Homo sapiens: one gene and its partners. The protein of the gene in region 1 purifies or fractionates together with the protein of each later gene. This does not show direct contact. Each region holds a gene or a part of one and is shown on either strand. Other genes may lie near its edges. The genes, in order: PROZ, SIK2, MELK and GNL3L.

Region 1 (7,591 bases):
GTGGGGGAGGCGGGGCGTGGGGGCGGGGCGTGGGGGGCGGGGCGTGGGGGAGGGCAGGGGCACGTGACGCAGGGCGTGGGGGAGGCGGGGCGCGGGGGAGGCGGGGCGCGGGGGAGGAGGGGCGTGGGGGGGCGGGCCGTGGGGGAGGAGGGGCGTGGGGGGGCGGGCCGTGGGGGAGGAGGGGCGTGGGGGGCGGGGCGTCGGGGAGGGCAGGGGCACGTGACGCAGGGCGCGGGGGAGGCGGGGCGCGGGGGAGGCGGGGCGCGGGGGAGGCGGGGCGCGGGGGAGGCGGGGCGCGGGGGAGGCGGGGCGCGGGGGAGGCGGGGCGCGGGGGAGGAGGAGGAAGGGTTCTGAGTGGACGCGGGGACTCCATGCCACGCGGAGGGCAGCCGCTCATGAGGCGGGGTGTGGGGGAGGAGGAGGAAGGGTTCTGGAGTGGCTTTTCTACTCCAGAAGTCTCCCCGATCCTGAAAGAAAATCTAGACAGGTGGAAAAAAGAGAAACATGTCCAGATAGTGTCTTCCACATTAATGGTCTCCCAAGCTCTGAGGAAGCCCAATGAGTTGAACAGTTTCTCATAAGCTTGCGGGTCCCTGTCAGTGCTTCTGAGATGCTAAAAACGCCAGGCTGTGGGCTGCGTCACCATGTGTCTCCTCTTTAATTTCTTCAGGAGCTCCAGGTGATAAGCTGCCACCTCCATCCACAATGTGGACATCAGAGGATGCAGCATGCTGTGGTTTGAATGTGTCCCTATAGTGCACGTGTTGGAAACTTAATCCCAAGGCAACAGTGTTGAGAGGTGGGACCTTTAAGACGCATTCATTGTCAGAGCCCACGTGAATGAATTGATACCACTATTGTAGGAGTGGGTTCGTTATTTTGGAATAAAAGGATGAGTTTGGCCCCCTTCCTCTCTCCCCTTTCTCTCTCTCTCTCTCTCTCTCTCTCTCTCTCTCACGCGCATCCACCTTCCACCATGGGATGACGCAGCAAGAAGGCCCTCGCCAGATGGGGGCCCCTGGACCTTTGATGTCCCAGCCTCCAGAACTGTAAGAAATAAATTTCTGTTCTTTATAAATTACCCAGTCTCAGATATCCTGTTACAGCACCACAAAGTGGACTAGACCACACTCTACTCTGTGAATCTAAGACGCACCATTATTGATGAACCTGAAAGAAAGAGCATATACCCAAATTAGCTGTGGGTCAGCTCAGCCTGGAGGCAAGAGGGGGAAGCTCAGATAATCTAAACCACAGGCCAGCCAGGAACCAGCTTTGCAATACATTTACACTATTCACATGGGCTCCCAAAACTCACACAAAAAAATGTATTTAAAGGGATTGCAAAGTGGCAGTGCCCCCAGGGGGCAACATAAAGCACAACCCCTTTCAGGAAGAACTCGGCCTTGTCCAGGCTGACATTAGAACATTGGCTGTAGGGAACAGGCCAATTCAGAGATGTTGAAATCTAAAACATAGGTCCCAGAGTTGATTGAACAGGTATTTAAATAGGGACTGCGGCAAGATCTAAGTATTCAATGACCAGGTTCTCCATAGGCTGCTCATTTCAGGTTCCACACAAAGTTGTGGGGTCAGTTGATTTAAGCTGGGGACCCCCACAGAGGACACCCCAACATCTGAAGGACACGACAAAGACCCCAAAGGAAGGAAGATTCTCCTCAGGTATACAGAAGGAAAGTAAACCAGTCAATGGAAAAAGTGTCCCAATGTTGGTTGGTTTGTTTTTCAGAACAGAAGAGGGTGACAGAAGAACGATTATTCATATGAGAGATGAGGAAGATGAGTAGAACGAGGTGAATCTTAATGTTTGGACAATTTATTATTGTAGAATTTTTGGTCCAAAGGTGGTATCTTTGAGAAGGCAGATGAGAAAATTAAATCACCACATACAACACGGTCAGTCCACGTACAACACAGTCAATCACAGCTGTGGCCTCGATGTTGATGCCTTCCTGTATTAGTCTGTTCTCATGTCACTGTGAAGAAATACTTGAGACTAGGTAATTTATAAAGAAAAGCGGTTTAATGAACTCACAGTTCCACATGGCTGGGGAGGCCTCAGGAAACATAATCATGGCAAGCAGGCACCTCTTCACAGGGTGGCAGGAGAGAGAAAATGTGTGTCAATCACAGGGGGAAGCCCCTTATAAAATCATTAGCTCTTGTGAGAATGCACTCACTATCACAAGAACCACCTCCATGATTCAATCACCTCCACCTGGTCCTGCCCTTGACCTGTGGGGATTATTACAATTCAAGGTGAGATTTGGTTGGGGACACAGAGCCAAACCATCCCCCAAAACTCACGTTGAAACCTAACCCCCTGTGCAATAGTACTAGGAGGTGGGGCCTCTGGGAGGCACTCTGCCTTCATGGATGGATGACTGCCCTCCCAAAAGAGGCTCCAGGGAGCACCCACATTCCTCCCTTCCACCATCCAAGGACACGTCTATGAATCATGGGCCGTCACCAGACACTGAGTCTACTGGAGCCTTGATCTTGGACTTCCCATCCTCCAGAACTGTGAGCACTACGTTTCTGTTTATCGTAAATTACCCACTCTAAGGTGTTTTGTTACAGCAGCCCCAACAGACTAAAATGGTCCATGAGGGAAGAGGTTGTAGCTCAGATACCCATGTCAGGCATATAGGATGTGCTTAATTAACACTTATTGATCGAATGTGTATGTCCCTGTCTGCCTTTCCATTTTTAGGCAGCTATTGATGGTTTTTAAACTATCCAGCAGAAGTATTTTTAATGTAAATTTCCATGTGGGAATACATTTTCACACAAAAAAAGGCACCTTTTCTTAAGTGAAGGCCACGTAGATTGCCAGGCTGGTGCAATTCACCCAAGAGCTATCCTATACAATCAACTTCTGGCTTTCAAATTATTTTAACTCACTCACTAAAGATAAACTTTATTTTCTTTTCCCAGCTTTTTAAAGCAAACTTCACAACTTCAGTGTATTTGCGGGCATGCCCTCTTAATCAAGGGTGTCAGCTTCTTAGTTTTCTTCTGTTCCCACTTTAACAAAATTGTATTTAGAATCCTTTCATTGAGTTTTGCCACCTTTGAGTGTCATTCAATCGAACAATATCTATATGCTGACAATGCTGTCATTTCATCTGTTACCACCTGAATCTCCACTGTGAGTCCCAGCTTCTCGGATGCCCACTCCTGTCTCCACCTGGACATCCCACAGACACCTCAAATTTGCCAAACCTCGCTTCCCTCTGCCCTCCTGGAGCTTGGCCGTCTCAGCACACGCACTGCCATCCTCCCAATCGCTCAGCCCAAACCTTGGAGCCGTGCTGCCCGACACAATTCATCATGAATCCCATCAGCTTTCCCTTCCTGAAGCATCCAGACTGCAAACGTGCTTCCTGCTGCATGGCTGCACCCTCACCCCCTCCTGGACTAGCCGGCAGCCTCCCTTTTGACTTCTCTGGAATGTTCTGTTCTCCACACAGCAGCCCAGTGATCCCTTCAGAGCACAAATCTTTCCATGTCAATTCCTGTTCCCTCCAATATCTTCCCAACACAGTGAAAATGAAACACCAGGTTCTTACCTCAGGCTTCAAGGGCTGATATGGTTTGGCTGTGTCCCCACCGAAATCTTATCTTGAATTGTAATCCCCATAGTCCCCACGTGTCCTGGGAGGGACCCGGTGGGAGGTAATTGAATCATGGGGGTGGTTTCCACCATGCTATTCTTGGGATAGTGAGTGAGTCTCAAGAGATTTGATGGTTTTATAAGGATCTGGCATTTCCCCTGCTTCAGTCATTCTCTCTGCTGCCACCCTGTGAAGAGGTGCCTTCTGCCATAATTATAAGTTTCCTGAGGCCTCCCCAGCCATGTGGAACTGGGAGTCAACTAAACCTCTTTTCTTAAATTACCCAGTCTTGGCTATTTCTTCATAACAGTGTAAGAAGGGACTAATACACAGGGCCTACATCTGAAAGCAGCAAACGACAACCCTGGGGCCAAATCTGGCCCCTTAATAGCTCTTATAAATAAAGCTTTATTGGCACACAGCCAAGTGTTCATTCATGATTGTCTATGCTGCCTCTGCTACAATGGTGCTGAGCTGTAGTGACAGACACTATTTGGCCCTTCCCCGCTTTCTCCCTCCTCCCTCCCTCCCTTCCTTTTCTCCCCTTCCTTCTTTCCATCCTCCTGCTTTCCCTCCCTCACTCCCTCCTGTCTCTTTCCCTCGTTCTTTTCTGTGTATTCCACACACACCTAGAACGTAAGCTGCATGTGACTTTGTCTGTCCCGCCCAGTGCTGTGTCCCCAGGGCCTATCTCACCTCCATTGACCACACACGGGCATGGGTGCCACCTTCCACCTTGCACCTGCTGCCTTTACCTTCTGTTCTCTGTCTCCCTAAATATCTCCCAGGGTCCTCTGAGCCTTCACCGTTCATTTCTCTGCCTGGCCTCAAACAGAAAACGTCAGGAGGGAAGCACACAGCTGCACAGGTCGTGCCCCGAGGCTCCTGCTGCCGGCACCTCCCCCAGCCTGGACTTTGGCTGTGTTTGTAGCCCTGTCCCAGCGCTCCGGGTGGGAATGGCAGGCTGCGTCCCACTGCTCCAGGGCCTGGTCCTGGTCCTCGCCCTCCATCGTGTGGAGCCCTCAGGTAGGCATCTGGCTTACCTGTCTGTTGTGCCTGTGCTGTGTCTTTCTTGACTCGGTCCATGGTGGATTTGTAGATGAGGCTTTTTCCAGGAGCCAGAGGAGCCCTGAGTGCCCAGACTAGTCTTAATTCCCCTGAAAAAGCTGTTTGGATCTTTATCATTTGGTGACAAGTATTTGGGACATGATAGTGTCACTTGGGGTCCTCCCAAGAGATGCCCAAATGGAAAGAAGCCTGTGTGCAGGGGATTCAGCCGGGAAAGGCCGGGGAGAGGGGAGGGGGAAAGGGGGAGGAGTGGGGGGAGGCCTGGGTTGGGCATTGGACGAGGGGAGGGGGTGGGGCAGGCTGAGCCCAGACTGCAATGTGGGCAGAGAGAGCCTTGGCCAGGCCAGCCAGGAATGCCCAGTCTTGAGTCAGGAGACATAGCCAGGGAGCAGCCACCCTGCCTGCCTGCCACCCTTCTACCACCAGCCACTTCACTGAAGGAACGACATGGACTCCATTCTGACTCTGCCTGCACAGGCGTCCAGGAAAGCTGCAAGTCAAAACACCCAGCATCCCCGCTGGCCCCATGGTCTCCCGCTGGCCCCATGGTCTCCCACCCTGAGAGGGTGATCCCCCCGCCCTGCCCTGCCCAGCACTTACCGTAGCCGGACTTAGCTGAGCCCCCCCTGCTGTAACCCTCAGCACCGAGAGAAAAGGAGGGAGGATGGGAAGGGCCTGGGCTTTGACCCTCCCGGAGAGGGAGAGAACATGCTTTGGGACCCTCAGGTGGGAAGAGGCTCCAGAGACCACTGCCGCGGGTCAACTCATTTGCCTTCTCCTCCTGGAAATCGCAGAGCCTGCTGCAATGTATAAGTTTCTTCTTTATGTGTTTTATCAAGATGTTAAATGCTGCGCACAGAGGCAGCACAGGAGCTGATGGCTCTTGGTCCCCAGTTCTCAGTACGGGGACCTTTGACCCCAGCTCAGCCTTCCTTCGCACTCAGACCCAAAACCCAGTTGGAGCCCTCCCTCCTCCACTTTCCTGACTGAGGCCCGTGGCCTCTCTGCAGAACCTTAGTGTATCCGCACTGATCCTGGGGCTGATCCATTCGCCCAGAGGATGAAGTGCTTGCCTACCTCGGGGGAGGGAGTAGCGGGGTGGCCCTGAGGCCCTCGCAGGCTGAGAGCCTGTGGAGACGGACGGGGCTGGGGCTGGCGGCCGGCCGGGGAGGAAGCCAGGCAGCTCTGGAAAGCAGGGCCCTCGGTGCTCCCAGTCACCTGCCTTCTTGTCTCGTCTGTAGTATTTCTCCCGGCCTCCAAAGCAAACGACGTTCTGGTGAGGTGGAAGCGTGCGGGCTCCTATCTTCTGGAAGAACTCTTCGAGGGAAACTTGGAAAAAGAATGTTATGAAGAAATCTGTGTCTATGAAGAAGCAAGAGAAGTGTTTGAAAATGAAGTAGTCACTGTATGTACCCCCACCACAAACCACAGGCCTCCTCATTATTTAGACTTCTGCTGGCCCAGGGAGCATCATTTCTCAGAGATTAAGCTTAATTAATTAGCCTATTTACTTACCGATGAGGTTGACACAATCCCAGTTTTACAGATGAGGAAACAATTTAGAGAATCGACTTAATCCACCTTTCCCTACAGCAGTGAGTGGGGCTGGAAGTCAGCTCAGAGCCCACTGGACTCATTTCTTCAGGTCAGGCAAGGCCCACACACTGATCAGACACCCAGCATACATTTTCTTTCTAGGCTTCAAGTCTGAATAATTCTCCTAATTTTAGATACTCCTACCCCAAACTAAGTGTCCCCACTCCCTACAGAGGTATATATCTTTAAAATTCAACTCGGTTTATAAAAAGCGAAAAGGTGATGTGACTTCTATATCATGTGCTTTTGTGGAGGGTGGCGTGGAGATTGGCCCTAGAAGGGAAGGGCCACGTTAGGGGCTGTGGGTGGTGGGTTTGTGCCATGTCATAGACTCTGGCCTTCCTCAAATAGGTGGTGGTAAGCACATGTTGAGTAATATATCTTACAGATACATTTAGTTACTATACATTTAACATAAACAAATAGGCTGTAAAACAGGAAAATTGTGCATTGTTTCAACCACTATTGTCCTATTAAGTGAATAAAATCAACATTTTCTTACCTTCAAGTTCATCTACAGGAAAGAATATAGAAAAACAAATATCCCATTTGTAACATTTTTATGTTTTAACTCTAAAGGATGAATTCTGGAGACGATATAAGGGTAAGTGGTTTCCTTCGTCTCCTCAGAAGTATTAATTCCTCGGGATGAGGTGCGTGGGTGGGCTTAGGACGCTTCACGACCCCAGCTCAGCGGATGCCAAGCCTCTGGCTCCAGGACCCACGGTGTCTCTCCAGGGAAGGGCAGCTCCGACTCTCCCCAAGGACCAGGTCAGGAAGCCCCCGGGCTCTGCCACCAGGGCCACAGGCAGTGCCTGGTTTGTCTTGCCCAGTGTCTGGGTAGTTTCTTGGCACTCTGGGACATGGGCCACAGGCCAGGAGGGCCCCCCCAGAGCAGCTCCTCCAGCCGCCTGGCTCCTGGGCTCCTGGGAAGCCTCATGCTGCAGCAGGGTCAGAACTCGTCTCAAATTTTGGAAAGTCATGGCCCCGATGGAGACTTTGGTTAGGAGACTCCTCCCAAGGGAGGAGCTCTAGGTGGGCAACTGCAGAAGAGCATGGGACAGAAGTAACACAGATGGAGACCCACGGGGCTGGGGGAGGCCAGGGTAAGGACCCACCTGGGAATGAGTAAGCAAAGAGCTGCAGCCACCACCAGACAAGCACGGGGACAACTGGGCACAGAAGGAAGCGGGAGAGGCAGGGAAGGCCGGAGAAGGGCTGATGGGGCGGGACAGAGGGGACCGCGTGCGGACGAAGAAAGGGCACCCAGCAGAGTGGGAGGCACTGGC
Region 2 (6,931 bases), on another chromosome or scaffold:
TGTCGAGGCCTTTGGCAGACCCCAGAGAAGATGTGACATCGTGACTAAGTAGCAGTGTCTTTTGCCTGGCAGCTCGCAGCACCTCCCCTCCCATTTCCAGCCCCTGCCCTGTAGCTGCCTGTCCTCGGGGACCCCTGCATCTGCCTCCCCTCCTCCTACCGCGGCATGAGGCCCTTGCCCAGGCTACCTGGGCTGATGCGCTTTGCCCTGGGACTCTGAGAATCAAGGAGCAGTAATTAAGCAGTGCCCAGCAGGGCCCTGTCCTTGTGCAGGCTGCGGTTAGCAGTGCTTCCGTCAGCGATCTGCAGCGGCTAACGTGTACTCGGGCGATTCAGAGCAAGGTATTATTTACCCTGCTGACGTCAATGAGAACATATTATCCACTGTCCTTTTCTGCAGCCTGAAATGAGCACCAGAACTCAGAGAACACAGCCACCTTCCATACTCTAAAAATTCCACCCAAGGCCCGATGAGGCAAAAACCCTATCGCATTAACCTGACATTCACATCACCCGGGCTCTTAGAAAAGAAGTTGTTTTTATTTTAATTCAAGAGGGTTGGAAACATAAAAACAGTACATTTTCCTTGCAGAAAATTACCCCATTTAAATTACTATTTGGTACAGAGATTATTTATTACACTGCATTTTAGGCAATTTTCTAACATTAAGTGACAAGTTATACTTTTGATTTTTTTTTTCACATTGGAGCTATTATGATTTGCACTCATAATACCAAAGCTACTGAACTCACCAATTTTTTTCTTAGTAATTAAAAAAAAGCACACAGAAAATATAACTACAGTTAGATTAACTTTATCAAAAGTAACTCTTTCAGACCAAACATCCAGCAAAACCACCCACCTCCCTTCAGATATAAGCAAATAATCTTGCCCTTTCTACAAAGTGCAGATATCTCTGTATCCCTTTTATTTCTCAAACTGCAGTCCCCGAAGTGAAGCAAACCTTTCTCTCCACTTCTTTCCCCTTCAGAGATTTTGGTGAAGGCAGGTTTCTCTTACCACCCATGGTGGAAAGGTCTCACCACTTGAATTTCCTTGACTGAGCAAATCTTCTGCAGACAGACACCACAGAGCCAGCAGCAGCCCATTATCTGCACTGGGGAATGTGACATTATTCCATCTGGGGTCATATGTTTCCAGGATGTTGTTTTGTACTTCTATTTTTAAAGCTCCCCTCTACCCACCCACTTTGCCTCTGAAAAGACAGAGTATTAAGTCAAAGTCTGTTATTACTTTTTTAATCCTAAAAGTAATAAGCACTTCTAGTTGATGGGGCTTGACTGTAAGGAAATGTTACGCCCCTCGTTGAGACAAAGGCTGAGTTCATGACCGTTCCTGGGGTGGAATCTGCTGGCCTGCAGTGGTGGCCTGATGCCGTGCGATGCGGCCCCTTGGCAATTGAGGAAGGGGGTGTTCTGTAGGAAACTGCTGTATTGTAACTTGGAAAAACTAGACATCTTTGAGGTGAGCCTAAACTTCTGCAGTTAACTGGACGCTGAAAGGCAGGCGGGTCTGCGGGGTTTTTGTCTCCCTCAGCCTGGTTCAGTGCACGGCCACCTGGACAGCTGCACTGTCACCTGAAGGCGGCCTCTTCCCCAAAGCCAGGCGGCTGTTGAGTGGAGAATAAGGTTGTGGGAACAATATCACATTCACCCTGTGCTTGACCAAAATGGGGGCTTTGTTTATACAGCTGTTTGCTTATGAAAAGAGTCAGATGCTACTGAGGAAAGAGAAGGGAAAGAGAGGGCTTCTTCCAGCACTAGAAGCCAGAGAACCAAAACCAGAAGCCAGTCAACCCAAGCGCGTGTCCCAGCTCCTTCTATCACCAGCTGTGATCTCAGAGAAGTCACAAACTTCCCAAAGCTTTGGTTTCTTCAGCTGTGAAAAATAAGGACAGTATCTCCCCAGCTAATTTCATAGAATTGTTGTGAGGGTTAGAAGAGAAAGTGCTTGGTAAAACTAATGTACAAATATAAGCTATTGCTCCCTTGTGGGTGGGCGAGCAGAGTATCTGGGCAGAACCCATCACAGCTCTCCCTGGGTGGGTCTGCGAGCACTGCTGCCGCCTGGTTCTCTATCTGTGCCCCAGTGTGTGCCTGAGTCTGCTGATAGGTTGAAACCTGCCTGGAGAAGATGTGGACACAAGGTGGGGGTGCACGTAGGATGGCTGTCTTCTAGAATCAGCTAGGCTACCTTAATTAGGACAAAAATGGTAAAATAAGAATGTGAGAGGCTACTGGAAGGTGAGAGGCTCCACTGCTTTCGTTCACCTGCCACCAAGGGCCAGACAAGGGCTCTGACATTACAGGTGCTTCAGACCACACTGTAGAACCTGTCAGAAGGGAGATGATAGAAACTTTAAGAAAATCTCTTTGTCCAGTTTAGAAACAGAGGCAGATGATACTGCTCTTGTCTTTTTTTTTTTTTTTGAGGTGGAGTCTTGCTCTGTCGCCCAGGCTGGAGTGCAGTGGCACGATCTTGGCTCACTGCAAGCTCCACCTCCCGGGTTCACGCCATTCTCCTGCCTCAGCCTCCCGAGTAGCTGGAACTACAGGCGCCCACCACCACGCCCGGCTAATTTTTTGTATTTTTAGTAGAGACGGCGTTTCACTGTGTTAGGATGGTCTCAATCTCCTGACCTCGTGATCCGCCTGCCTTGGCCTCCCAAAGTGTTGGGATTACAGGCGTGAGCCACCGCGCCCGGCTGATACTGCTCTTGTCTTTCATACATTGCTCTGAAGATAAGTTCTATAAAAAAATTCCAGGTCGGGTGTGGTGGCTCACACCTGTAATCCCAGTACTTTGGGAGGCCAAGGTGGGTGGGTCACCTGAGGTCAGGAGTTCAAGATCAGCCTGGACAACATGGTGAAACCCCATCTCTACTAAAAATATACAAACTAGCTGGATGCGGTAGCACACACCTGTAGTCCCAGCTACTTGGGAGGCTGAGGCAGGAGAATGGCTTGAACCCAGGAGGTGGAGGTTGCAGTGAGCTGAAATCACGCCACTGCATTCCAGCCTGGGTGACAGAGCGAGACTCTGTCTCAAAAAAAAAAAAAATTAAATAAATTCCAGAAGCAACAAAATGATCAAAGATCCCTGCCTGTACAATGACTCCAACTTACGAGCTTCCCTGTTCTCCAATTTTCACCTTTCATGTTTAGGCACAAAGAGACCGAGTGGCTCGGGTGGCTTCCCAGGAGGCAGTTAGAGGCAGCCCAGTTTAGGAGTTTGAGTGTAGCAGGTCAGCCCTGGCACCGGTGTCAGCCACTGTTCACAGGGACTGAGACTGTGAAATGACACACTGCATATTGTCTCTATAGGAGGTCGAATGGGAAAAAGTTACCTGGAGTATGAATTTTCTTTAAACCAATAGGGAGCTTAAATGTGACTGTTGATACAGGTTTTAAAATGTAATACAAACATATTTACGAACCTGGGGCTTGACTAGAGGCTGGAGGACCCCAAAAAGGAGCGCCACTCACTCACTGTGTCCTTGCATCCTCAACTGCCCGCATGTCTCCAGAGGCTGCTTAGTGCCCACACGCCTGGGACCAACTGTGACTCCAGGCTGCTGCTTGTCACCTTGCCTTAGTTTCTGGCTGATCACCTAATCACTCTGGAGCTGAGAATATCCTTCTCCCCACATCTAACCCGTGGGCAGAATTCTGTGAGCGTTTCCCTGCCTTTAGGACTGATGACACTCGGTGTGTGGGTGGAGGTGGGGGAGTCGTCAGTCTTATGATGAGTCTCTTCTGCTGGAGACTTTGGTCCACGAGAGAGGGTAGGGGGCAGGGGAGAGGCCGATACTCCTACAGGGGGGGTCCCCCCTTGCTCCCCATCAAAATGCAGAGCACCCCATTACTCCAGCACCAGAGTTGGGAAGGGACACAAGAGGCAAGGGCTGGCTTCAGTCTTGGGCTCCTGTCTGTCCCAACCACTGACTCCAGCATACGGTTTAAACACTTGGGAGTTCTTGATATCTGAGGAAGAAAGGGCCACTGACTTTTTCTTTCCTAGGAGGCAAAAGTGGATGGAAGAGAGAAGGGGTTTGCTCAGATGGGCATGAACAGCCCCTGAGCCCCATCCCCACTCCCCTGGTGGGCCCTGATGCTCTCCCACGCAGGGATTCTCAAGGTGGATGGTGTAGAGAACCATCAGCCTCCTTTTCCCACGGTGACAGAAGGCAGTGCAGGCAGAGGTGGCGAGGGGGCAGCTGGGGACGGTCAGTGTCACCGGGAATGTGAAAGTGGGCCCCCTCTTCCTGTCGGGCTAACATGCTGTTTGCCTTACAGGGACCAGTGTATCAGTTGCGTGGAGATACTAGAGACACACTTGCCCAGCTGGGAATTGCAGAGCTAGTGCATTTCTCCCAAAGCACAGACTAATACCCCAGATTTAAAAAAAGAACATAAAAAATAAAGTACCACACATATTGCACTTTTTGCCGAACGAAATTTTTACCTCACGTTCATCTCACCAAAGTCTCTTCAGAGGAGCCTGGTTTACAGGGTGATGAAGCTGATGATGATACAGTAGTGTACACACTGCTAACGTGAATCAGACTGGAAAGCAAGTCAGTACTTCAGAGTAGCCCCGCAGAAAAAGAGCGATACTAAGCCTTCTTAGTGTTTTGTTTGTTAGTAGTGATGAAGAGAAAACTGCTTGGAAGCTTCCATGGGTCACTAGTTAGGGACAGAGCAGCACAGGTGATCAGACAGGGCTGAGCAAACACCTGACTGACCAACAGAACCAGTCTCCTCAGCAGCTTACATTGCAGTCAATACAGAGGGTTATGGAATTTATTGATTTCTGCTTGAAATAAACAAGATAAGCAAATAGGAGCTTACAACACAGGTCCCAGCAGGAGGGGTCACGCTCTGCATCAGGCCGGTGTCCACGCCGCTGCCGTGTGTGACGGATCCTGATAGGCCTGGCTGCTGTAGGGCACCTCTCGATTTCTCTCTGGGTCCTTAACCTTCCAGTAGCCTCTCTGCAGTCCCTCATCGGCTGGCCTAACCGTCCTGCCATAGCTCCCAGGTCTCCTGGGCTAAGCAGCTCATGGCATTGTTGGGGGGCAGGAGTTTATGTCGATCTGTAACTACACCATTCCTGCAGTTCTGAAATGAGTGGCCCCCATTTTCAATCTGCAGGCATTTTAATATCGCAAATATTGTAGCACTTCTGTAGTATATTTTGGGAAAACGTCTTCCTTCAGTCTAAACAAATCAAGCCCCATTTTATAACTGGCTATTTTGTAAAGACTCAAAACAGATTAGAGATCTTAATGAAATGATCTCTTAAATGAAATGATGTTCTTTATTTCACGAAATCATCAATCTTAAGCACGAGCAGGAATAAACAACTCCCAGAAGAAGCTTAATTCATTCTTCCTGGATTTTCACTGTGTGTTATTAAATCACAAAAATGACAGTCCCCACACTGCCCTTTCCCACTGACACCAAGTCCAACCGTGAGCACAGTGCCTCTGCGAAGCATCCTGGCACCCATGGTGAGCGCTGGCGACCAGGCAGTCTCTGGCCAGCAACAGGGACTGCTCAAGTTACCGACGTTGGTAGGAGCTGGGCTCGCATGGCCAGAATGGAACCCCCTAGACTTTCCACACGTCACCTGCCTGAACGCTAACTACAAAGAGGAAAGGCAACTTAAAGGTGTTTTCTAGATGCAGCATCAGTTAGTCCCTCTCTTTGTGCTTTAAGGAAGATGCTTTGTGCTTAACACATTCATCTGCTGATGGGACAAGCCATTCTAAAGGGCAGAAATGATCATCTTTAGAATTAACACTGACTTTGTAACACCTGGATGTTAACTGTCCAAATGGCAAATTATTCATCATTTCTAGGGATACAGTTAGCTAGCTGTAGCATCTAATTTTTACTTACTTTGATGACTGAATTGTAAGTGTTGGTTAAGTTTTATTAGTAATATAATGTTTGGCAGATGATCTGCTTAAATGGTTAACACATCTGTGGTTCTTTCTTTGAATATTGCTGTAATACTTGAACATTTCATTACAAGTCAAAACTTTAACGAAATTAAGAATGCTGATTCCCACATGGTGGAAAACAAACTCTGAAGTGACTTTGGATTTAGCATTGACATAAATGGAAACTGTTGGTTTCTACAGAAAAGAAAGAATTAAAGCATGATCTGGGGGAAAGGCACCGCACTACCACTTCACATGGGACAGAAAAGTTCATTTATCATGTCCTTAAAATCTCTAAGCCCTATATGAAACTGTCCAAATATACAAAGCTCAATAAACTACTAGCAACATATAGTGTAAGGTCAAAGTAGTTATTACATCGGAAAAGAGACAACAGGTACCCTGGAGACCGACTGCCCGCAAGCCAGCAGTGTCCACGAGAAACTGCAGGAAGAGCCTGTCTTCCCTGGCCCAGGGCTGGTGCTCTTGATGCGTTCTTGAGTTTCTTGCCCCCTGCCTCCACGGTGGCGGGTCTCCTGTCAGTTCCACGTGTGACACCTCTGGAGTCCTGAGTATATTCTGACACTCGGCAACCCAGGGCACCTTCTGAAGGGGTGTGTCACCTGCTTCCGAATGGAGATGAAGGCGGTTTCTGGGGTCAGTACCAGCTGTTATTTAGTGGCCCCTGAAACACAGCTCATGCCCCACTGCTTTGTGATGGCCTTGGGGGACAACTTGCATCAGCAGCTAAGAACTTAGGATTCAATGACAAAGCACAGCTTTCCTTTATTTCCTGTGCATCTGATTTCCTGATGTCTTCTTGATTTGCCTTGTAGCAATATGTGGTTGCTCAGCTTCAGTGAAAAATATATTGCCTTTTCCCCCATATATATGCAATAGCACACACCCTTTCTGCTTTCACCAAGGTTGCCCTTGATAATAAACGGATGTAATCCTGCATAA
Region 3 (7,024 bases), on another chromosome or scaffold:
GCCTCCTGGGTTCAAGCAATTCTCCTGCCTCAGCCTCCCATGGAGCTGGGATTACAGGCATGCGCCACCACACCTGGCTAATTTTGTATTTTTAGTAGAGACGAGGTTTCACCATGTTGGTCAGGCTGGTCTCGAACTGCTGACCTCAAGTGATCCACCTGCCTCAGCCTCCCAAAGTGCTGGGATTACAGGCGTGAGCCACCATGCCCAGCCCCTTCTAAAGTCTTTCCTGAGCAAATGCACAGCCCTGGGTATGAGCACATCCTATACATGTACATTGGGCTTGTAGATACCCTGGTATATTTTGGAGCTTTTCCAATTCACTGTGGACATCTTATTCTCTAACTTTTTTTTCAGCATTTTTGTTAGTTTATTGTGGTCACCAGCTATTACTTACTGCTTCGGCAGCCACAATGTGCAACAATTGCCTGTAAATTTTTTTTTGTTTTTGAGATAGGATCTCATTCCGTCAACCAGGCTGGAGTCCAGTGGTGTGATCATGGCTCACTGCAGCCTCGACCTCCTGGGCTTAAGCAATTTTCTTGCCTCAGCCTCCCGAGTATCGGGGACTATAGGCATGCACCACCATGCCCAGCTAATTTTTACAAAATTATTTTGTAGAGACAGGGTCTCAATATTTTGCCCAGGCTGGTCTCAAACTCCTGGACTCAAGAGATCCACCCGCGTTGGCCTCCCAAAGTGCTGGGATTACAGGCGTGAGCCACTGCGCCTGGCACCTCTAAATCTTTTTAACAGATGCTGCTGGGGAAAAGGCTGTTCATACTGGGCAGGCTCTGAGTAAGGTCAAATAAAGACAGCTTTCAGGCTGGGTGCAGTGGCTCACGCCTGTAATCCCAGCACTTTGGGGGGCTGAGGCGGGTGGATCACCTGAGGTCGGGAGTTCAAGACCTACCTGACCAACATGGAGAAACCCCGTCTCTACTAAAAATACAAAATTAGCTGCCTGTGGTGGCACATGCCTGTAATCCCAGCTACTCGGAAGGCTGAGGCAGGAGAATTGCTTGAACCCGGGAGGTGGAGTTTGCAGTGAGCTGAGTTCACGCCATTACACTCCAGCCTGGGCAACAAGAGCAAAACTCCGTCTCAAATAAAAAACAAACAAAGAATAAAAAAAGACAGCTTTCATAGTAGGGTCTTCTAGGGAACTACTGGCCAGGCTAAATAATGACAGTTTTCTGAGCATGAAGCTTTGAAGGAGCTCCAACCTGTTCTGCCCCCTCCAGCGGCTCCTAGGTTGCTGGTCTTCATCGTGATTGTGGGCTGTGGGTTTCTAAGACTATCATAGAGCTGGAGAGAGAAGAATGGGGATAGGTAGGGCAAATTCAAACACCTCAAACTCACTGTTTCTACTTAGCTGTTTTCTATGAATAAATGCTGCGATCTTTGGCTAATACACAGAGTTCTGAAACAAAAGAGGTATACTTTGTTTATGGATAGGGAGATTTGAAGGTATAGATTTCAGTTTTTCCCAAAATGAATTTTAAATTTAATGTAATCTCAACTTTTCAGTGGATGTAAAATAAGTCAAAATGATTCTAAAATGTATGTGGAAATACAAAGGGGCAAGAATAACTAAATCATTCCTAAAGAATAAGAAGATGGGAGGAAACTGGTCAACCTGATAAAAGAACTATTATAAAATTAAAGAAAGTAAGATTTCCTTAATAAATAAAACAATGAAACAAATAAAACAATGAAACCTTTCATACCTTATATTTAGGTATGTCTCTTTAAAAATAACATAGCTAGGCCGGGCGCGGTGGCTCACGCCTGTAATCCCAGCACTTTGGGAGGCCAAGGTGGGTGGATCATGAGGTCAGGAGATTGAGACCATCCTGGCTAACACAATGAAACTCCATCTCTACTAAAAAATACAAAAAATTAGCTGGGCATGGTGGCGGGCACCTCTAGTCCCAGTTACTTGGGAGGCTGAGGCAGGAGAATGGCATGAACCCGGGAGGCGGAGCTTGCAGTGAGCCGAGATTGCACCACTGCACTCCAGCCTAGGTGACAGAGCGAGACTCCGTCTCAAAAAAAAAAAAAAAAAAAACAAAACAAACAAAGAAAAAAACATAGCTAGATTTGGTATGCAAACTGAAAATCTTGTCTTTTGAATTGAGCGCTTACCCAACTTATTTTTATTATGGATTTAGTTATTATATATCTTTCTTTTTTTATGTTTCCTATGTGTCTTTTTCTGTATTTCCCCCTTATTTCTTGATTTTTTATGTTAATTTCCCCCCACATTTTATTGGTTTCTATTTGATTTCTATTCTTTTAATATTTACTCTAAATTTTTAACATTTAATTTAACGAAATATAAAGTGAATCTGTATCTTTTTTTTTTTTTTTTTAAGATGGAATCTTGCTCTGTTGCCCAGGCTTGAGTGCAATGGCGTGATCTCAGGCTCACTGCAACCTCTTCCTCCTGGGTTCAAGTGATTCTCCTGCCTCAGCCTCCCAAGTAGCCGGGTTTACAGGCACCCGCCACCATGTCTGGCTAATTTTTGTATTTTTAGTAGAGACAGGGTTTCACCATGTTGGCCAGGCTGGTCTCGAACTCCTGACCTCAGGTGATCCACCTGCCTCGGCCTCCCAAAGTGCTAGAATTACAGGCGTGAGCCCCTGCACCCTGCTGTGAATCTGTATGTTTAATTTCCTTCTAAACAATATGAAGGCCTTAGAACACTTAATCTCTGATTACCCCTCCTGGATTCCATGCTATTGATGTGTCCAGTGTATTAGCTCTTGAATGTTTTTAACTTTTTATTTTGAAATATTTATGGATTCACAGGATGTTATTGAAGATATTATTCCACTTTCTTCTTGCTTCTATTGTTGCTATTGAAAAACCAACCTCAGTCTAGTGCCTTTTTAGTCTGTCTTTTCTCTCTGGCTCCTTTTAGGACCTTCTCTTTGCTTTTGGTGTTCTGCAGTTTCACTGTTAGGGCTACTGCGTTGCACACCTCCAGGGAACACACCATCTGTGTGGTGTCTCTGTGGATAGTGTCCTCTGGAGTTGTATAATCTGGTAAATAGAGATGTGGATTTCTTTTATGTATCCAGTTCATGATTCATCATGCTTTCTATGTATGGGGATTTGTATTTTTAATCAATTTTTGAAAATTTCTTGAATAATATACTGCTTTTTCTTTTTCTCCTTTTCCTTGTTTCTTTTTTTTTTTCTTTTTGAGACAGAGTTTCTCTCTTCTTGCCCAGGCTGGAGTGCAATGGCACGATCTCAGCTTACTGCAACCTCTGCTTCCCAGGTTCAAGCGATTTTCCTACCTCAGCCTCCCGAGTAGCTGGGATTACAGGTGCCTGTCCCCATGCCCAGCTAATTTTTGTATTATTAGTAGAGACAGAGTTTCACCATGTTGGCCAGGCTGGTCTTGTACTCCTGACCTCAGGTGATCACATGACTTGGCCTCCCAAAGTGCTGGGATTACAGGTGTGAGCCAGCGCACCCAGCCTGCTTTTCTTTAAAACAATATTTATATAAATTTATAGAGTACAAGTACAATTTTCTTAGATGCATAGTGGTCAAGTGAGAGGTTTTAAGGTGTCAGCTGAATAATGTACATCGCACCCCTTAAGTAATTTCTCATCACCAACCCCCTTCCATCTCCTCACCCTTCCAAGTCTACATTTTCTATCATTCCACTCTCTACATCCACGTGTACACCCTTTTTTAGCACCCACTTATGAGTGAGAACATGCAATATTTGTCATTCTGTGTCTGGCTTGTTTCACTTAAGGTAACCTCCACTTCCATCCACCTTGTTGCAAAAGATAGGATTTCATTCTTTTTTATGGTTGAATAGTATTCTATCTGTGTGTCTGTCTGTCTATCTATCTCACATTTCCTTTATGCAGTCATCTGTTGATGGACACTTGGGTTGATTTTGTATCTTTGCTATTGTGAATAAGTACTGAGATAAATATACAAGTGCAGGTATGTTTTTGATGTATTGATTTCTTTTCCTTTGGGAAAAGAAGTAGAGGGAATTGCTGCTTTTGCATTGTCCATACTATGTATATCTGGAACTTAGAATAGCCTTATGTTAGACATTTTATTTCATTTTCTGTTTCCTTCAACCATCTTTCACGTATCGTATGTCTTTTTCTGTCTTGGCTACATTCAGAGTTATTTCGGATTTATATTTCTATTAAAATATCTCTATTTCTTTTATTCTGTTATTTGACATGTGCATTGCACTTTTCATTTTTATCATGTTTTTATTTCTAGAAGTTTTTATTCTTTTTCAAATCTATTTGAACAGTTTTGGTAGTCTTTTGTTCTTTACTCATGTTTTTGTTTCACTATTTTAAACATGCAAACATACTTATTTATGTTCTGTATTTGATAATTTTAATATCTGAAATCTTTATGCTCATAGTGCTTGTGTCTTTTGGAATTTTTTATGTAGGTTTATTTTTCTTTGAACTCTATGGGAATTATCTGAGGCTTGGGTTAAGGGCTTGAGTTGGGTTGGAGTGAAGCTTTTCTTTCAGGTAGGAGTTGTGCGTGCTTCTACCAGGTTCCTGGGGCACAACTTAGCATAGGACTACTTTAAGTTAAATTTAGGCTTGAGGTTTCTGGGACCATGCAGGTTGTATTAATTTGGACCTTTATTTATCTGAAGACTGGCCTGTGTTTACTTACAAATTATTAAAAGAAACTTCATTTTTCTCCTCCCTCAGAACCAAGACCAAGACACCCTTTTTCTTGCCTATTCCCTTTGAAGAGCAGATTTATATTTAACTCAGCCTTTAATTTTAGCTATAGCCCTTCCTGGCTTTACATGGGAGCTTTGGTTCTAACTCACCACCTTGCAGAGGCCCAAGGCTTCTGTGGCTGTAGAAACACATGCTATAGGTTATCAGAGGCAGAAGATAGCTGCCCTTAGGGCAGCAGAGAGTTTCAGCCTTGGTTACTCCTTTGGATTCATTCTCATGTTTTTAGTTTGGCCTCTCAGGATTTTACTTACTCTCTTGCAAGCTCAACCATAAATTTAAAAGGATTAAAAAGTATTTTTTATCCAATATTTCTGTTAGAGTAGTTTAACATGTTTTTTCTGCCCTAATTGCTGACTAAACTTTTTTTTTGGTACATGTCAGAGGCAAGCCGTGACTATCTAGGTATGGAAAGCATTTCTTAGTGATTGATTTGTGGCCATTCACAATATTGCCTAGGATCTGAGTATGTGTATACACTCAGCCTGTATCATGTTGAAAATTACTGTCAATAGAACAGACTAAAGTGATCTACATGTATTAAAGAAAACTATATATTTTCAAATTTCCTAATGTCAATAATATCCTTTTGATAATTCATTTTAATAAAAATAGTACAAGGTAGTTTGCAAATGATCAAGGAATGTTGTAAAGAAATTGACTTTTCTTCTTCAGTGTGCTTTATCTAGTAACTTTTTTTTTCCAGTTTACCAAGTACTGGACAGAATCAAATGGGGTGGAATCTAAATCATTAACTCCAGCCTTATGCAGAACACCTGCAAATAAATTAAAGAACAAAGAAAATGTATATACTCCTAAGTCTGCTGTAAAGAATGAAGAGTACTTTATGTTTCCTGAGCCAAAGACTCCAGTTAATAAGAACCAGCATAAGAGAGAAATACTCACTACGCCAAATCGTTACACTACACCCTCAAAAGGTATTTGCTAAGTGAATTAAGCAGTAAGAAGTTTCATTTTTCTTACCATGTTAAGTAAACATATAGCAGGTCAGAAATGACTAGCATTGCTTTCAGGAATTTCTAGGAGAAGTGAAGCTGTTTTTTATCATGTCATTTGCATTAGTTAAAATGAAAGCATATTTGTCAATTTCAATTTATTCTCAAATGATACCAAGTTTTTCCTCTTTTTCACGTTTATAAAATTGAATCATAGCATCCTAGGATATCAAAGCTGAAAGGCAAGTTAGAGCTCATTTAATCCAACTCCCTTTTTCACAGCTAAGAAACCTGAGACTCAGAAGGAGTGAAGTGATTTGCCCAAGGTCATATACCCAGGTTTAGACCTTTCATGCCCATTTACCCCGACTTATGACTCAAGCTGACGCCTCCGCTGAGCCTTTACTTATCTGGATCTCCAGTTGTGGTGTCTGGTCCTGTTCTGCCCTATGGTATTACTGCCTGTCCTCAGCAGGCAGGGTGAATCCATGATGCCCTTCCAGATATCTGTCTTTGTCCAGTTATCACAACTTCCTCATTTCCCTTGGTTTCCTCTTCAATTTAGTCATGAGCAGTTATTTAAACCATTTCCTTTATGATACTTCACTGTTTTGGTTGCTGGCCTCATCTGGACACATTCTATTTGATCAGACTGCCTCTTAGAATACAGTGCCTAGAACTAAACTGAGTTTTCTAGACTAGGTCTCACTAGGGTAGAGTGGTAAGTGTCATGACAGTAGAGACTCTCTGCCTTGTTTATTGCAGCATGGCATGGTCTGTAGTAGGGGCCATACCTGTCTGGTACATAGTACACAGTACTAGACCTGATGCCTAGTACATAATAGGGGCCATATTTATGTAATGAATTAATAAATTAGAGCCCAAAGGAATTTTATTTACAGTGATCCTGTTTATGTCACTTTAAAAAATGTTACCTAAACTTTATTAGCCTTTTTCCCCCCACCAATTGTGACCTTCTCAAGTTTCAAGATTCTAACAAACCTAAACTCTGGAGCATTGCCATGTGAACTGCTGGGAAACCACATCCTGCCATTGTGCTTCTAGTGTACTAATGGAGCTCATAGCCAGTTTGAGGGGTTAACTTCTTGTCTATAAAGATATTACGGAAGACTTTGCCAGAATATTTGCTAGAAGTCCCATTTTTATGTTAACGTCATTTTCCATTTCATCAACTCAAATAACACTTTCCGCCAAAATGTGAGGCCAGTTTGGTGTCCTGATGATGTCTGTGTTTGTGTGTGTGTGTGTGTGTGTGTGTGTGTGTGTGTGTGTGTGTGTGTGTGTGTGAT
Region 4 (7,024 bases), on another chromosome or scaffold:
CATAAGTTGTACTAGTGATTAAGAGCGTGCCTGTAATGCCAGCTGCTTGGGAGGCTGAGGCAGGAGAATCGCTTGAGCCTGGGAAGCAGAGGTTGTGGTGAGCCAAGATCATGCCACTGCACTCCAGTCTGGGCGACAGAGTGAGACGCTGTCTCAAAAAAAAAAAAAAGGAATAAAACAAAACAAAAAAAGAAAAGAAAATGATAACATTTGGATAGCACACTGGCACTGGGCAGGCTGGATGAGGATTGTGCTCTGTTTTCTGTGTGAATGCTGGCCCTGCCAGTGGACAGCTTGGTGGGAAAAAAATACATTTTTTATATAATCATAAAAATGTCATCAAGAATCATACTGTTAATACCAAAAGCAAATAATCATACTTTTATTTTATTTTTTATGTTTTTTTGAGATGGACTCTTGCTTTGTTACCAGTAGAGACGGGGTTTTGCCATGTTGGCCAGTCTGGTCTTGAACTCCTGACCTCAAGTGATCCGCCTGCCTTGGCCTCCCAAAGTGCTGGAATTGCAGGCGTGAACCACCATGCCCGACCAAATAATCATATTTATAAGTAACACAAGAAAGGTGGTAATTATACTTTATTTAGGAACATCTAATACTAGATGATAGAAATATTGATAGTGATGGAAAAGACAAAAATTACCTCGTTAAATAAAGTAGGATATATGCATACTTAAGAATTCTGGCTGTTTAAAAGATAAAGTAGTATCATATAGAAAGATTATATGGAAAAACTGTATTGTGTGGAAAGACTATTAGATGGAAAGATCTTCAGATTTGCTAACTGAAAGCAGGCATTTGCCACTATGCCCCACTAATTTTTTTTTTCAATAGAGATGAGGGTCTTTCTATGTTGTCCAGGCTGGGCTTGAACTGCTGAGCTCAAACAATCCTCCCATCTTGGCTTCCCAAAGTGCTGGGATTACAGGCGTGAGCTACCACACCTGGTTTTTTTTTTTTTTCTTTTTAACAAGAGGGAAAAATAGTCTCAGCTTGGCACTGGTGAGTCTGGAGGGCTACGTTCTCTACCTACTGACCCCCGGATAAACGTGTGGCAGTGAAAACAACAACCACCTTTTGAGAGGCCTGCAAGTGAAGCATTGTCCTTGGGAGAGCCAAGTATCAAGGCAGGAGCTTGGACAATTGATCCCAGGGAGAGGTTGTTAGGGGAGTGCTGATCACCCAGGTGGGAGTTTCAGAGAATGTTGTGGGAAATTTGATGCTACGGCAGAGGAAGGATGAGGGGAATGAAGTCAGTGGGTGTACAGGGACATCTGTGGGTGACAGTATGGGAGATGAGGGATTAGCGAATACAGAGATCTGCTTTTGAGTACTGATGAATTGGTGATTTTAGGCCTAGATGATATTGGTGGATGCATTGAGGCTCAGAGAGGTTTTAAAAAATTCTTCAAGGTCATATAGCTAGGTAGTTGTTGAGCCAGAGTAAGAATGTCTGCTGGTTATAAAATGGTAGCTGTTTTCTCTCTGGAGTTGTTGAAAAACCTATGAGCAGAGGCTCCTGAGTGCTGGGAGGGATGACTGACTGCACCCCCTTCTCCTTTTTCCCTCCCCCCTTCTCTTCTCCCCTCTGAAGCACATTCTTTTTCTCTCCAAGTGATGTGTTTTCTTTCACTGTGTGCTTGTATCCATTGCAGGCACTCAGTTTCCAGGGAAGTTAGGCAGATGGAAATTGTTGAGTGAAATGTCCAGACCTGGTTCATTCCAAACCTCACATTTTTTTTGTTGTTGTTGTTGCAACATGAGTACTTTAGAAGAAAGGAGACTGGTGGTCTGTTTCGTGTTTATTTAAACTGTGTTTATTTAAATTCGACCCATTCACATTTGTTATGAGACGTTTATGTCTGGTCAGATTTCTACCGTCTTATTTTTTATTTATTTATTTTTTGAGATGCAGTCTCGCCCTGTCACCCGGGCTGGAGTGCAATGGCGCGATCTCAGCTCACTGCAACCTCCGCCTCCTGGGTTCAAGCGATTCTCTTGCCTCAGCCTCCCGAGTAGTTGGGATTACAGGTGCCTGCCACCATGCCCAGCTAATTTTTGTATTTTTAGTGGAGACAGGGTTTCACCATGTTGGCCAGGCTGGTCTCGAACTCCTGACCTAGTGATCCGCCCACCTCAGCCTCCCAAAGTGCTGGGATTACAGGTGTGAGCCACCGTGCACGGCTCTCTACCATCTTATTTTATATTTATTATTTATTTTGTTTCCTCTTATTCCCTTATTTATGTTTTGCTAACTTGATGAAGTTTTTAAACAATCCTCCATCGGTAATTAAGTTATGTTGGTAATTGTATTCATATTTATATCAAACATAATTAATTCTGTATTTATCACTTTACCAAAGTTAAATAATGACTATTTTGTAACCTACCCTTTCAAAATGAAACCTTTAGCATGCTTTCATGCTTTTGCTTTTCCAACCCCCATTACTTGATTCCTGGATTTTATTGAAATAATTTGGTATTTCAGTTCTGAGCTATTTCCTTATGATATGCTTCTTCGATTTTAAGAATCCTTTTTTTGTTGTTTTTTTGAGACAGGGTCTCACTCTGTCGGCCAGGCTAGAGTGCAGGTGTGATCATGGCTCACCACAACCTCCGCCTCCTGGGCTCAAGTGATCTTCCTGCCTCAGCCTCCTGAGTAGCTGGGACAACAAACATGTGCCATCACACCTGGCTAATTTTTTTTTTTTTTTGAGACAAGAGTCTTGCTGTGTTGCCCAGGCTGGAGTGCAGTGGTGCGATCTTGGCTCACTGCAACCTCCACCTCCTGGGTTCAAGCAATTTTCCTGCCTCAGCCTCTCGAGTAGCTGGGATTACAGGTGCGTGCCAACACGCCCGGCTAATTTTTGTATTTTTAGTAGAGACGGGGTTTCACCATGTTGGGCAGGCTGGTCTCAAACTCCTGACCTCAAGTCAGGCATCCGGCTAATTTTTGTATTTTTAGTAGAGACGGGGTTTCACCATGTTGGGCAGGCTGGTCTCAAACTCCTAATTTTTGTATTTTTAGTAGAGATGGGGTTTCACCATGTTGGCCAGGCTGGTCTTGAACTTCTGACCTCAAGTGATCCACCCGCCTTGGCCTCCCAAAGTGCAGGGATTATAGCTGTGAGCCATCGCTCCTGGCCTCAGTGATAAGTTTTAGTAGATTTCCGTAGATTTCCTGCCCACCACTGTTTGTTTCCTTTAGCTTGGGATCTTTATTCTGATTTAATTTTTATTTTGCCAGTAGTTTTATCCAAAAGGAAACACAGGGCCAGGCGTGGTGGCTCATGCCTGTAATCCCAGCACTTTGGGAGGCCAAGGCGAGCCAATGACTTGAGGCCAGGAGTTTGAGACCAGCCTGGCCAACATGGCGAAACCCCGTCTCTACTAAAAATAAAAAAATTAGCCAGGCACAGTGGTGCACGCCTGTAATCCCAGCTACTCCAGAGGCTGAGGCAGGAGATTTCCTTGAACCTGGGAGGTGGAGGTTGTAGTGAGCTCAGGTGGCACCACTGCACTCCAGCCTGGGCAACAGAGCGAGACTTTGTCTCAAAAAAAAAAAAAAACAGAGAGAGAGAGGGAGGGAGGGAGGGAGAGACGAAAGAAAGGAAGGAAGGAAAGGAAAGAAAGGAAAGAAAGAAAGGCAAGTGGTAATCTTTGCTCACCTGAAAATGTCTTTTTCTTACTTTCACAAAGTAAGAGTGATCTGTTGGTTAGAATTTTATCTCTTTATCTTTAGAGTTCAGAAATTTCATCAGGATATGTCCAGGGTATGTCTTTTTGGTTGTTAATCTTTTTTTTTTTTTTTTTTGAGACAGGGTCTCTGTTGTCCAGGCTGGAGTGCAATGGTGCCATCATAGCTCATTATAACTTTGAATTCCTGGGATCAACCAGTCCTCCCGCCTCAGCTTCCTGAGAGCTAGGACTACAGGTGCATGCCGCCACACCTGGTTAATTAAACTTTTTTTTTTATATAGACAAGGTCTCACTATGTTGCCTGGATTAGTCGCAAACTCCTAGTGTCAAGCGATCCTCCCACCTCAGCCTCCCAAAATGCTGGGATGACAGGGTGAGCCATGGCACCCGGCCTTGGTTGTTAATCTTGCTGCTGCCTGTGTCTTTCCAGTCTGAAACCTCAAGCCTATGTTCAACTTAAGGAACTTTCGTCTGTTATTCAGAAAATTATTGCTTCTCCATTTGTACCCTTTTCTCTTTCAGGAACTCCTGTTTAGATTTTAGCTGTCTTGGCTCTATTGTCCATTTTTTCTTTTATATTTTTGCTCATCATTTCAATTTCTTTGAATTTTTGCTCTAAGTAAGCCCCTCCTTTGGTCTTCTAGCTTATTAATTTGGTTGTTAGTGATGTCTTTTTTGTTTTTCACTATTTCTATTGAATTTTTTTAAGAGACAGAGTCTCACTATGTTGCCTAGGCTGTTCTCGAACTCCTAGGGTCAAGTGATCCTCTTGCCTCAGCCTCCCAGCTAGCAACAGGCAGGTGCTACTGTGCCCAGCTTAAGTTTTGACTGTTAAAGCAGTCTGTGTTTGTGTATTTTTTTAAGAGATGGGGTCTTGCTTTGTTGCCCAGGCTGGATTAGAACTCCTGGGCTCAAGGGATCCTCCTACCTTAACCTCTCATGTAGCTGGGGCTACAAGCATGCACCACGGCACCCAGCTTTTGAATTTTTATTCAGTGTCAAGTTTTGGAAAATCTTTTTTTCTCACACAGTTCCTTTGAAGTATCTTCTTGATTCTCCTTAAGAATTTGCAGTAGCTCGAGACTAGCCTGGCTAAATGGCAAAACCCCATCTCTACTAAAAATACAAAAATTTGTATTTTTGTATACGAATACGGGAGGCTGAGGCAGGAGAATCGCTTGAACCCGGGAGGCAGAAGTTGCAGTGAGCCCAGATCACACCACTGCACTCCATCCTGGGCAATAGAGCAAGAGTCGGTCTCAAAATAAAAAGAATTTGCAGTAGAACTTAAGTTCTGTTTCGTACCTTAACTCTGCAGTGGGAGCCAACTGATGTGATTGTGGAGCCTGTTCTCTGTGTGGTATTCTCGAGCTGCTCATATAATATATTTGTTTGTATATATCCTGAGCTTCCAGAAACTCCTGTCTCTCTAGGAATTCCTTGAGCCCCTATGAAGGTGGTAAGAATTAAAGGGAGCCATTCTTCCCAATAGGCCAACTGTGAACGGGTTGAGAGATGGGACTTCTTATTGAAGAAGGGGAGAGGCCTCATAAGTTCTTGGGCTTTGCTAAGTCATGATTGGAGAAGTGGTAGATCTCTTCTTTTTGTATCTGAGGGAGGCGGCAGCATTTTGGCTGAGTAGGTCAAGTCCCTTTGGAGGCAATGGCCTGAGCAGGGTCAGCAGGAAGGATGGTTCTTTCCCCACATACTGAGGGCATCTGCCCAGGTTTAGTGGGCTGGGACTCCTTAGATTACCTTCTCATTCTGCCAGCTCCCTCATCTCAGCCTGGCACTTAAATTGTTGAGTTTCCCCCAGTAGGAAGTTCTGGGGGAAAGAGGAGTCACAAGCACATATTCAGGTTTCTCTCTGTACAGAATTCCTCTCAGAATTATTTGAGTTTGCAGTGAAATAATGTGCAAATATTATATCCAGTACTTCCTCTGATACTATTGCTGCCATCCGCATCTCTTGTCTTGTGCTGGATCTAGACAGACATGGTATCTGAGGCTTCCTAGCTAGGTTCCCAGTGTGGCCTGGCCTTGATTCAGATGTCAACAAATATCGTGTAGATGGATGACGGCTCTTTTCTTTCTTTTTTTTCTTTTGTAGAAAATAAAAAGCCAGGTGAAGGTTCCAAGGGCCACAAGAAGATAAGTTGGCCCTACCCTCAGGTAAGGTATGCCTGTTGTTGAGGGTAAGGTCAAGAACAGGTTGCTTGTCCTGGGAGAGGCCCACTAAACCCAGTAAATATTGGGTGACTCTGGACAGAGTGCCACATTGGAGTCAGTGGATCTGGCTTTCCCTCCTTCTCTGGGTGGCCGCAGCAGAGAATCAGCAGCATTTTTCCCAAGTCATATGCAGCTTCGTGCTTGATTTACCTTGGTAGGGATTATCATTATCCCCATGTTTTAGTTGAGGAAACTGTCAGTGAGAAAGTTCCTAGGTTCAAGGTAACGCAACTGGGATTTGAGACTGTCTGATTCTCAAGTCCCTGTTTCTTATGGAGAAGAGGGAGGCCAAAACATCATCTTTGGTTCCTGGATCTCCTGGTCCTGCTGGGAAAGGTGTGGGTAAGTAAGGCTTGGGAAAGAGCAATGAGAAGAAGGTATAGGCCAGAGAAGGCTTGGGTTCTCACAATTTAGCATGGGTGAAGCTCTCAAACTTTAACCAGTCCTCTAGAATCACCTGGAGGATGGGGGAAAACATCGATTGCTGGGCCCCACCTCAGAGTTTCTGATTCAGTAGGTCTGGCATGGCATCCCATGATTTGTATTTCTAGCAAGTTCCCAGGTGCTGCTGCTACTGCTGGTCTGAGGACCACTCTTTTGAGAGTCACTTATCTAGAAAGGTTTTCCCTGGGCCTTGGGAAACCTTCCCAGCTGCCCTTCCCCTCTGAGAGGTCTCCTGTCAGTCCCTGCCTAGCTATAGGAGAGAGGACCTCTACCCAGCCAGATGGGCAGATCTTTGGGGATGGAGCCCTTTTTGCTTCTCTCCTTTCTTTGTCCCCACAACTACACTTATCTGAGAAGCTTTAACTCCTGCTGCTCACCTTGGGAGTGAGGGGATGAGAGGATGAGAGGATTGAGAGATAGAAGGGGCATTTATGAGGGGATGTTGTCTTCCTTCTAGGGCTTCTTGCTGCCTTTTTGAGGTGATTTCCATGGGTTCATTACCTCTGTTTTTTTTCTCTTATGTGGTGGCCAGCCTGCAAAGCAAAATGGGAAGAAAGCAACCTCCAAAGTGCCCTCTGCACCTCATTTTGTTCACCCCAATGATCATGCCAATCGAGAGGCTGAATTAAAGAAG

Evidence for each region.
Region 2: the proteins of PROZ (region 1) and SIK2 purify together in Homo sapiens (affinity purification with mass spectrometry; 2 studies listed by BioGRID and IntAct, with this or other methods). This does not show direct contact.
Region 3: the proteins of PROZ (region 1) and MELK purify together in Homo sapiens (affinity purification with mass spectrometry; 2 studies listed by BioGRID and IntAct, with this or other methods). This does not show direct contact.
Region 4: the proteins of PROZ (region 1) and GNL3L purify together in Homo sapiens (affinity purification with mass spectrometry; 2 studies listed by BioGRID and IntAct, with this or other methods). This does not show direct contact.

The regions. Positions count from the first base shown.
Region 1 is NC_000013.11:113,154,067-113,161,657, forward strand, and holds the start of PROZ (vitamin K-dependent protein Z isoform 2 precursor), read left to right. Parts: upstream 1-4,581; 5' UTR 4,582-4,594; coding exon 4,595-4,664; intron 4,665-5,132; coding exon of another isoform or gene 5,133-5,198; intron 5,199-5,947; coding exon 5,948-6,111; intron 6,112-6,881; coding exon 6,882-6,906; intron 6,907-7,591. UniProt on the Homo sapiens protein: Appears to assist hemostasis by binding thrombin and promoting its association with phospholipid vesicles. Inhibits activity of the coagulation protease factor Xa in the presence of SERPINA10, calcium and phospholipids.
Region 2 is NC_000011.10:111,724,443-111,731,373, reverse strand, and holds the end of SIK2 (serine/threonine-protein kinase SIK2), read right to left. Parts: 3' UTR 4,410-6,931; coding exon of another isoform or gene 4,317-4,409; 3' UTR 3,322-4,316; coding exon of another isoform or gene 3,164-3,321; 3' UTR 519-3,163; downstream 1-518. Other genes in the region: PPP2R1B (serine/threonine-protein phosphatase 2A 65 kDa regulatory subunit A beta isoform), read left to right, coding at 3,164-3,321. UniProt on the Homo sapiens protein: Serine/threonine-protein kinase that plays a role in many biological processes such as fatty acid oxidation, autophagy, immune response or glucose metabolism.
Region 3 is NC_000009.12:36,659,886-36,666,909, forward strand, and holds part of MELK (maternal embryonic leucine zipper kinase), read left to right. Parts: intron 1-5,464; coding exon 5,465-5,696; intron 5,697-7,024. UniProt on the Homo sapiens protein: Serine/threonine-protein kinase involved in various processes such as cell cycle regulation, self-renewal of stem cells, apoptosis and splicing regulation. Has a broad substrate specificity; phosphorylates BCL2L14, CDC25B, MAP3K5/ASK1 and ZNF622.
Region 4 is NC_000023.11:54,533,213-54,540,236, forward strand, and holds part of GNL3L (guanine nucleotide-binding protein-like 3-like protein), read left to right. Parts: intron 1-5,827; coding exon 5,828-5,889; intron 5,890-6,922; coding exon 6,923-7,024.